Linked DNA regions of Homo sapiens: region 1 is linked to region 2. A link means that fine-mapping ties the variant in region 2 to the plasma level of a protein whose gene starts in the linked region. Region 2 holds a variant in brackets. A gene starts in the other region. All regions are shown on their reverse strands. Region 1 holds the start of PLA2G1B (phospholipase A2 group IB). Region 2 has its middle 6.0 kb from the start of CTRB2.

What was found. A credible set is the group of variants that fine-mapping cannot tell apart. PIP is the posterior inclusion probability: the model's chance that the variant is causal. The UK Biobank Pharma Proteomics Project read protein levels with antibody pairs (Olink). The fine-mapping took linkage between variants from a reference panel, not from the people measured, so its PIPs are less certain.
Region 1: it holds the start of PLA2G1B, and the variant in region 2 is the best candidate, but not a certain one, in a credible set for the plasma level of the PLA2G1B protein (UK Biobank, PIP 0.87).

The regions. Positions count from the first base shown.
Region 1 is chr12:120,325,055-120,330,428 of GRCh38, reverse strand. It overlaps PLA2G1B (phospholipase A2 group IB), which reads left to right and starts at 2,650. Exons shown (of 4, transcript NM_000928.3): 1 at 2,650-2,709; 2 at 4,409-4,568; 3 at 5,368-5,374. The coding sequence starts at 2,676. RefSeq lists an enhancer at 4,694-4,753.
Region 2 is chr16:75,198,446-75,203,819 of GRCh38, reverse strand. No RefSeq gene overlaps it. Among named protein-coding and RNA genes, the nearest start is that of CTRB2, 6.0 kb to the left of the region's middle. RefSeq lists enhancers at 2,244-2,323, 4,175-4,469. The variant G/T (reference allele first, on the strand shown) is at 2,846.

The DNA.
Region 1 (5,374 bases), not on the chromosome of region 2:
GAGTTCAAGACCAGCCTGGGCAACATAGGGAGACGCCGTGTCTCCAAAAATTTTTTTGAGACAGAGTCTCGCTGTGTCGCCCAGGCCGGAGTACAGTGGCGTGATCTCGGCTCACTGCAAACTCTGCCTCCTGGGTTCACGCCATTCTTCTGCCTCAGCCTCCCAAGTTGCTGAGATTACAGGCACCCGCCACCATGCCCAGCTTATTTTTTGTATCTTTAGTAGAGACAAGGTTTCACTGTGTTAGCCAGGATGGTCTCCATCACCTGACCTCGTGATCCGCCTGCCTCGGTCTCCCCAAGTGCTGGGATTACAGGTATGAGCCACCGTGCCTGGCCCAAAAAATTTTTTTAAATTAGCCAGGTGTGGTGACACATGTCTGTAGTCCCCACTAATCGGGAGGCTAAGGTGGGAGGATTGCTTGAGCCCAGGAGGTTGAGGCTGCAGTGAACTATGATCGTGTCACTGCACATCAGTCTGGGAAACAGAGCGACACTTTGTCTCAAAAAAAAAAAACAGATAAATAAATTAAATAACCAGGCCCTCCTTATCCCACAGGGTTGTTGTAGAGGTGACATAGGAACAGAAGAGCACCAAGTTAACCAATTATAAATCTATATAGAGAGAAGCAGATCAGAGGCCAGGCACAGTGGCTCATGCCTATAATCCCAGCATTTTGGGAGGCTGAGGAGTGGATCACCTGAGGTCAAGAGTTTGAGACCAGCCTGACCAACATGGTGAAACCTTGTCTCTACTAAAAATACAAAAATTATCCAGGCATGCTGGCAGGCGCCTGTAATTCCCAGCTACACGAGAGGCTGAGGCAGGAGAATCGCTTGAACCTGGGAGGCGGAGGTTGCAGTAAGCCGAGATCGTGCCATTGCACTCCAGCCTGGGCGACAAGAGCGAAACTCTGTCTCAAAAAAAAAAGAGAGAGAGAGAGAGAAGCAGATTAGCAGTTACCAGGGGCTGAGGGAGTGTGACTGCTAATGGGTACAGGGTTTCCTTCTGGAGTGATAAAAATGTTCTGGAACCCCATAGAGGTGATGGTTGCACAACACTGTGAAGGTACTAAATGCCCCCGAATTGTTTACTTAAACGTGGTTAATGTTATGTGAATTTCAGCTAAACAATGTTATGTAGATATTTGGCCGGGCGCGGTGGCTCACGCCTGTAATCCCAGCATTTTGGGAGGCCGAGGCAGGTGGATCACGAGGTCAGGAGATCGAGACCATCCTGGCTAATGCGGTGAAACCCCATCTCTACTAAAAATACAAAAAAAAAAATTAACCGGGCGTGGTGGTGGGTGCCTGTAGTCCCAGCTACTTGGGAGGCTGAGGCAGGAGAATGGCATGAACCTGGGAGGCAGAGCTTGCAGTGAGCCAAGATCGCGCCATTGCACTCCAGCCTAGGCAACAGAGCAAGACTCCGTCTCAAAAAATATATATAAATAAATAGATATGTGATGTGACAGGTTTTTTTTTGAGATGGAGTTTTGCTCTTGTTCCCTAGGCTGGAGTGCAATGGCGTGATCTCAGCTCACCGCAACCTCCGCCTCCAGGGTTCAAGCCATTCTCCTGCCTCGGCCTCCGGAGTAGCTGGGATTACAGGCATAAGCCACCATGCCTGGCTAATTTTGTGTTTTTAGTAGAGACAGGGTTATTCCATGTTGGTCAGGCTGGTCTCGAACTCTCCACCTCAGGTGATCTGCCAGCCTCAGCCTCCCAAAGTGCTGGGATTACAGGCATGAGCCACCGTGCCTGGCCTCTGATATGACAGTTCTAATGCCCTTTAGTATTCTATAATTCAGACTCAGGCCTTTGGAATCCAAAGCCCAGGTTTTTCTCACAAACCCACACTGCAGAGCGGAGTGGTGGAAAAAAATAAAACCTCTGCCTTGGAATCAGACAGATCTAAACTGGAGCCCTATTTTGTCATTTGCCAACTGTGTGACCTTGGGCAAGTTACCGCAACTCTCTGAACCTGTCTCTTTATCTGCAAGGTGCACGACTGATGGGACTATTCAACCAGACCCAGTGCACAGATTCAGGCACTTGATAAGACATTGAGGCTGCAGGCAGCGATCTTTTTTCTTTCTTTCTTTTTTTTTTTTTTTTTTTGAAATAGGGTCTCACTCTGCTGCAGAGGCTCAATCACTGTTCATTGCAGCCTTGACCTCCCTGGCTCAAGAGATCCTCCCATCTCAGCCTCCTGAGTTGCTGGGATCACAGGTGCAATCCACCACCACACCTGGTTAACATTTTTTTTTTTAGAGATGAGGTCTCTCTATGTTGCCCAGGCTGCACTTCCTTCTTGTCTCCCTTATCCCAGCGTCCGACTGAACTGACGGCTTTGCTTTCCCCAACCAGCCCGTGAAGCTGGGCTGAGTACAAAGTGGTGGGTATGAGGGTCAAGATTGTAAGATCTGAAAACTCCAGAAACCATCCCTTTGGTTAACAGTTGCTAAGGACAAATGCATAACATATTTTCCAGTGATCCCATGCTGGCAAATCGTCAGGGTCATTCCTGCAACAGACAGATTCAAGGCCAGCCCCAAACTCAGCCAAGAGCAAAGCAAACACTCCAGCCTTATCTGGGCAGGGTTGTGTGGAGACTGACTATAAGACTATACCTGAGACTGGTCATCTCAGTTCTTTTCTCACCTTGACTGCAAGATGAAACTCCTTGTGCTAGCTGTGCTGCTCACAGGTAGGCAAGTCTCCCCGGCTCCACCCGCCTTTCTCTCCCAAGTGAGCTAAGATCTCACTCCTCTGGAATGGGGGCCACAGGCCACAGCAAACAGGGATGGCCAGCCCCGCAGTCTCAATTCGAGGTTCCCAGTGGGGCTTAAGGGCTCCTCTATTGGGGTTCCCTCAAGGCTGGCACTTTTTCAACCTGCAAGTCTGAACTCAGATTGCCTGAGCTAAGAAAGCTTGCCTTTATTTTCTTTTTTCCAGACAGGGTCTTGCTCTATCACCCAGGCTGGAGTTCAGTGGCATGATCATAGCTCACCACAGCTTCCAACTCGTGGGCTCAAGTGATCCTCCCACCTTACTCAACTAAGTAGTTAGGCCAATCTCCCATTTATTTTATTTTATTTTAATTTTTATTTTTATTTTACTTTATTTTATTTTTGAGACGGGGCTCACTCTGTCGCCCAGGCTGGAGTGCGGTGGCGTGATCTCAGATCACTACAACCTCCATCTCCTGGGTTCAAATAATTCTCTTGCCTCAGCCTCTCAAGTAGCTGGGACTTGTAGCTCTCAAGTAGCTGGCACACACCACCATGCCCAGCTAATTTTTTGTGTGTTTTTTTTGGTAGAGACAGGTTTTCACCATGTTGGCCAGGCTGGGTGACCTCCCTTTTAGATTCTCCTCATCCTGCTCTATTCTTCCCCTTTCTAATGCAGTATCCAGTTTCCTTACTTATCACATTTATTATTATTCTTATTATTATTGAGACAGAGTCTTGCTTTGTCGCCAAGGCTGGAGTACAGTGGTGCGATCTCGGCTCACTGCAAGCTCCACCTGCTGGGTTCACGCCATTCTCCCGCCTCAGCCTCCCCAGTAGCTGGGACTAAAGGCGCCTGCCACCACGCCCCGCTAATTTTTTTGTATTTTTAATAAAGACGGGGTTTCATCGTGTTAGCCAGGATGGTCTCGATCTCATGACCTTGTGATCCGCCTGCCTCGGCCTCCCAAAGTGCTGGGATTACAGGCATGAGCCACCGTGCCCGGCCTTATCACATTTATTATTTATTGTTTTTCTCTCCCACTAGGTTGTAAGCTCCATGAGGTTAGAGATTATTATTATTATTATTATTATTATTATTATTATTATTATTATTATATCTGTTCACTGCTGTATCTCTAGCTCCTAGGACAGAGCCTGGCACATAGTAAGTGCTCAATAAATATTCACTGGATAAACAGTGCAGATAGTTTAAAACTATCTGACCTAGGGAGGCTGAGGCAGGAGAATGGCGTGAACCCGGGAAGCAGAGTTTGCAGTGAGCTGAAATCGTGTCACTGCACTCCAACCTGGGCAACAGAGCAAGACTCCATCTCAAAAAAAAAAAAAAAACTATCAGGCCTAGCTGGGTGGCACATGCCTGTAATCCTAGCTGAGGCGGTAGGGTCCCAGAAGAAGAAGAAGAAGAAAAAGAAGAAGATATATATATATATACACACACACAAAGATATAAACTTTATATATATAAAGTTTTCATTAAAAAAAAAAAAAAACCTCTACCCACTTTCACTTTACCAGGTTCCTGGGTCCAACGGTCTTCAGAGGAGGCAGCTGGCAGGGGTCAGGGAGGCAGCGTGGGACCCGAGGGAGCAGGAAGGCAGTGTGTCCCCGGGGTGCTGGCAGACCGATTTGAACTCTGGCTATGTCTTCTTGCAGTGGCCGCCGCCGACAGCGGCATCAGCCCTCGGGCCGTGTGGCAGTTCCGCAAAATGATCAAGTGCGTGATCCCGGGGAGTGACCCCTTCTTGGAATACAACAACTACGGCTGCTACTGTGGCTTGGGGGGCTCAGGCACCCCCGTGGATGAACTGGACAAGTAAGTGATCCGCCTGCAGGAAAATTGGAGTGCCTGCCGGGGGCGGGGTGGGGCACACGCCAAGGATCTCACGAGGCATACAAAGGGGACTTGCATATCTGCTAAGGATAACATATTTTCACCTCTTGTCAAATAAACAAATATGTTCCAAGAGGACCCTGTAGCGAACGCACCCCGTTAGAGATGGAAACAATGACCGACGTGCAAAACAGTGGGCGATGCTGCCCTCCAGTGGCAGAATGTAGCAACAGTAAACATCACAGCAACTATCCACGTGTCATTTTCTAGCAGTGGTTGTCACTGCACCTTCTGAATACAGGATTTTACTGTATTCTTGCAACCATGTTAAAAATCGCTTTCAGGCCAGGCGCGGTGGCTCATGCCTGTAATCCCAGCACTTTGGGAGGCCGAGGCGGGCGGATCACTTGAGGTCAGGAGTTCGAGACCAGCCTGGCCAACATGGTGAAACCCTGTCTCTACTAAAAAATACAAAAATTAGCCGGACATGGTGGCGAGCGCCTGTAACCCCAGCTACTTGGGAGACTGAGTTGGAGGTTTCAGTGAGCCAAGGTCGTGTCACTGCTGTCCAGCCTGGGTAACAGAGCAACTCTGTCTCAAAAAAAAAAAATGCTTTCAATAAATATATGATAAAAGGACTTATATTTTTTCAAGCCATAGGATCATTTCTCCTGAAGCATCTTGGCGAAGTCATCCCCACCTGTTCCTGAGAGTGGGCAGGTGAGGGCTGACCTATTGCTCTGCACTTACTCCTATCTCAGCTGTCCCTCCCACTTTCCAGGTGCTGC
Region 2 (5,374 bases):
TGTCACTGGGACCACTGCTGACCCACACACTCCAGGTGCCTTTCTCTGCCTTTAGTCCCCCATGTCCAGTGCTCAGGAATGTGCATGCAAGCATCACCCCCTCCCCCGTCAGACCCCAGCCCCTCACACCTTCTGCATCCACTGCTGGGAGCTGGCGCCACTGTCCTCTCAGCTCCCACACTCTTCCCCGCCTCCCTCTCTGCATTTTCTGTGACCCTGCAGTTAGACTTTTTTTTTTTTTTTTTTTTTTTTTTTTGAGACAGAGTCTTGTTCTGCTGCCTAGGCTGGAGTGCAGTGACATCTTGGCTCACGGCAACCTCTGCCTCCTGGGTTCAAGCCATTCTTCTGCCTCAGCCTCTCAAGTAACTGGGATTATAGGCACTCACTACCACGCCCGGCTAATTGTTGTATTTTCAGTAGAGATGGGGTTTCACTATGTTGTTCAGACTGGTCTCAAATTCCTGACCTCAGGTGATCTGCCTGCCTCGGCCTCCGAAAGTGCTGGGATCATAGGCATGAGCCACCGCGCTCGGCCTCTGCAGTTAGATCTTGAGGCTTCCTCACGCTCAGCTTCCATCACTTCGGCCAGGCCATGGAGGGGGCCGGTTCCTTTCCCAGGATGTGTCCGGATTGGCGGTCTCTCTCTCTCTGGAAACTTTTAGTCTTTCCTTTAATGCAGTGAAAATTTTGTTGGAGAAAATTCTCCTGTTGTTCCACTGTCTGAAAAGATATTTATTCATTTTGATCTTGTAAAAGTTGCCTGTCACTCTGAAAAATAATTTTTGTTGAGACGTGCATGTGGGTATGTACATGGATATTTGGACTTGGAAGGTGTTTCAGTGTCTCCTGGCTTCTGTTGATTCGTGGAGAAGTCAGTGATTTACTGTTGCTTTTTAAAAAGGTTTAATGGATTTTCTTTGGATGCTTTTAAGATTTTACCTTTGATTTTCGTTGGTTTACCAAGATGCTTAGTTTCTTAGTTTCCTTGACTCAGCCTGCATGGGGTTCTTAGACAGTCTTTTTTAGAGTCTTGCTTTCTTGCCCAGGCAGGAGTGCAGAGGTTCGCTCTCAGCTCACTGTAACATCCATCTCTCAGGTTCAAGTGAGTCTCGTGTCTCGGCCTCCCAGGTAGCTTGGAGTACAGGCCTATGCTACCATGCCCGGCTAACTTATTTTATTATTTTTTTTTTGAGATGGAGTTTTGCTCTTGTTGCCCAGGCTGGAGTGCAATGGCGCTTTCTCGGCTCACTGCAACCTCCACCTCCTGGGTTCAAGAGATTCTCCTGCTTTAGCCTCTTCAGTAGCTGGCATTGTAGGCGTGAGCCCCCACACCCAGCTATTTTTTGTATTTTTAGTAGAGAGGAGGTTTCACCATGTTGGTCAGGTTGGTCTCAAACTCCTGACCTCAGGTGATCCACCCGCCTCGGCGTCCTCAAGTGCTGGGATTAGGCGTGAGCCACCGCGCCCAGCCTCTGAGTGCTTTTTATCATGAAGGGTGTTGGATCTTGTCAAAGGCCTTTTCTGCATCAATTTAAGTGATCACGTGATTTTCCCCTTTCATTCAATTAATGCATATTACGCTGATGGATTTTCTTGTTATTTCCTATAGCGCTTGGCATGCTGGGATAACTCCCACTTCATCATGGTGTATAATCCTTTTAATATGCTGTCGGGTTCAGTTTGCTAGTACTTTATTGAAGGTTTTTGCATCTATATTCATGAGAGATACTGGTTGGTAATTTTCTTCTGATGTTTTTATCTGGCTTTTGTATCAGGGTAATGCTGGCTTCCTAATCTGTATGTATCCATTTGTGATTTTTTAACATCACAAATTTAGATACTCAGCTCAGTAATTTTCAGTGTGTTCTTTTCTCATAAAAGTATTTCAGGAGGCAAGCTTTCCTCCAAACACTGCTTTCATTGTATTTTTTTTTTTTTTTTTTTTGAGATGGAGTCTTGCTCTTATGCTCAGACTAGAATGCAGTGGCATGATTTCTGCTCACTGCAACCTCTCCTGAGTTCAAGTGATTCTCCCTCCTCAGCCTCCCAAATAGCTGGGATTACAGGTGTCCACCACCATGCCTGGCTAATTTTTGTATTTTTAGTAAGAACAGGGTTTCACCATGTTGGCCAGGCTGGTCTCAAACTCCTGACCTCAACTGATCCACCTACCTCGGCTTCCTAAAGTGCTGAGATTACAGGTGTGAGCCACCACACCTGGCCTTTTTTATTGCAATTTGATACACACTTTATAGTTCTAAGTCTTTTTCATTTCCTCCCCTGTACAGTGCCTCGGCATGACCCACTTTATCCTGAGGGCACCTGCAGGCCAGGGGCAGGCACCCATTGCCCCAAAGCCCTGGAGCTGGGTCGGAAGCAGAGCAGAACCCTGGTGCTCACTTCCTGTTTTTTCCTTGCACAGCCGAGTTCACAGCCTTCTGCCTTGGGCCACAGCTCTAGCCTCCCCACGTAACCACAGGTTCCGATCTTTGCTTCTTCTCCCAGGTCTTCCTGTCTCTTGATGTTTCCCTCTAAAGATCCATCATGGGCTGGGAATGGTGGCTTACGCCTGTAATCCTAGCACTTTTGGGGGCCGAGGAGGGCAGATCATGAGGTCAGGAAATTGAGACCATCCTGGCCAACATGGTGAAACCCCATTGCTATTAAAATACAAAAATTAGCCAGGTGTGGTAGTGGGTGTCTGTAGTCCCAGCTACTCAGGAGGCTGAGGCAGGAGAATCGCTTGAACCCAGGAGGCAGAGGTTGCAGTGAGGCGAGATCTTGCCACTGCACTCCAGCCTGGTGACAGAGTGAGACTCCATCTAAAAAAAATCTATCATGGCTG[G/T]TCCTGGGGGGCAGCCAACATTCCACACTAACCCGGCATCTTGGCAGGAATGGAATGGGCTCCCTCCTGCATTTTCTACTTCACTGGCTTTCCTAATACCTTTCTCTGCCCGTGCACTGTCAGCCGTTCTGATGATGCGTCTAATAGGTTGGAATTAAGGTTATAGATGGAATTTAATTATAAGGACATGAAGAGAAATTAACTTGGAGAATGGATGTGTGAAGAGGGGAAAAGCAAAATGAGAGAGAGCTTGGGCACAGGAGTGGGATCCAAAGTCGACTATTAAAAATAGTATCAAGCCGGCCGGGCGCAGGGGCTCACACCTGTAATCCCAGCACTTTGGGAGGCAGAGGCAGGCGGATCATCTGAGGTCAGGAGTTCGAGTCCAGCCTGGCCAACATGGTGAAACCCCCATCTCTACCAAAAATACAAAAATTAGCCAGGCGTGGTGGCACATGCCTGTAATCCCAGCTACGCAGGAGGCAGAGGCACAAGAATTGCTTGAACCCAGGAGGCAAGAGGTTGCAATGAGCCAAGATGGTGCCACTGCACTCTTGCCTGGGCAACAGAGTGAGACTGTCTCAAAAAAAAAAAAAAAAGCAGAGGCGGGTGGATTGTTTGAGGCCAGGAGTTTGAGACTAGCCTGGGCAACATAGTGAGACTCCTTTAAAAAAAAGAAAAAGTAGCTGGGTGCAGCGGGTGGCACCTGTAATGTGCTGCTCAGGAGGCTGGGGCATGAGGATCACTTGAGCCCAGGAGTTCGAGGCTGCAGTGAGCTATGATCACACCACTGCACTGCAGCATGGGTGACAGAGCAAGACCCTGTCACCCTGTCTTTCTCTGTGTGTGTGTGTGTGTATTTTTTTTTCTTTTTTTGAGATGGAGTCTTACTCTGTTGCCCAGGCTGGAGTGCAGTGGTGCAATCTCAGCTCACTGCAACCTCTTCCTCCCAGGTTCAAGCAATTCTCCTGCCTCAGCCTCCTGAGTTGCTGGGATTACAGGTGCATGCCACCATGCCCAGCTAATTTTTGTATTTTTAGTGGAGACATGTATTTCACCATGTTGGTCAAGCTGGTCTCGAACTCCTGACCTCAGGCGATCCACCCACCTCGGCCTCCCAAAGTGCTGGGATTACAGGTGTGAGCCACCGCGCTGGGTGTCTCTATATATAATTAGAGCCACCGCGCCCAGTCTCTCTCTATATAATTAAGAGCCAGGTTTCTTAAGGAAACTCCCAGCTCAGTGAGGGAGAACTGCTCTTAAACACAGAGGAAATTACATGTATTTTATTATGTCAACAACCATCTACATACAAATAAATGTGAGGCGTAAGTAATATAAAAATGGAATAGCAAGCACAAACCTGGCTAAGGGACTTTTTCACTTGCTGGTGAAATCTGCGTCTGTCCCCCGCTCCACCCACCGGCCTCCCAAGAGTCTGAAAACCACCCGGTATAAGGCTGCCACCTGGTGGCCAATATGAAAACTGCATATAGCTATGCCTTACTGTTCCTAACCCAGCGTTGTTTCAAAGAAATACAAAAGAAATACAAGGCGAGCCAAATGGATGATTTTAAATTTTCTGGTAGCCCTACTGAAAAAGTAAAAAGAGGCCGGGCACGGTGGCTCACGCCTGTAATCCCAGCACCTTTGGGAGGCTGAGGCGGGCGGATCGCTTGAGCCCAGGAGTTCGAGACCAGTCTGGGCAACATAGTGAGACCCTCTTCTCTACAAAAAAAAAATGCAAAAATTAGCTGGGTGTGGTGGTGAGACCCTGTCTCTTAAAAAAAAAAAAAAAAAAAAGAGGGACTGGCGCGGTGGCTCACGCCTGTAATCCCAGCACTTTAGGGGGCCGAGACAGGCGGATCACGAGGTCAGGAGATGAGACCATCCTGGCTAACACGATGAAACCACGATGAAACCCCGTCTCTACTAAAAATACAAAACAATTAGCCGGGTGTGGTGGCGGGCACCTGTAGTCCCAGCTACTCAGGAGGCGGAGGCAGGAGAATAGCATGAACCCGGGAGGCGGAGCTTACAGTGAGCTGAGATCTCGCCACTGCACTCCAGCCTGGGCGACAGAGCAAGACTCCGTCTCAAAAAAAAAAAAAAAAGAAAAAAGAATTTTAATAATATATTTTATTTAACCCAATATATCTACATATTTCAACATGTAATCAGTATTTTAAAATTATTAATGATATATTTTACACTCTTACACTCTTTCAAACCTAGTGTGTAATTTGCACTTCCATCACATCTCCACCTGGATGCTACATTTTCATGAGAAATACTCGATCTGCATTTACATCTTGTAAAACTTACAGTTGAAAAGGTAGACTCACACCCAAATTGTCCCAAATATGCTTAAAAGCTTCCAATTATGTGTTATATTGACAAGTACAGTTAAGCAAAAGGCTGAGTTTAATCAGGGGTCGCACTTGATTTAATCTCAGCTTAAAAACAGATTCCTCCTCGGGCGGGGGTTCCCCCACCCTTGGTCTGAGTTAGACCACGTTAAACAGTGCA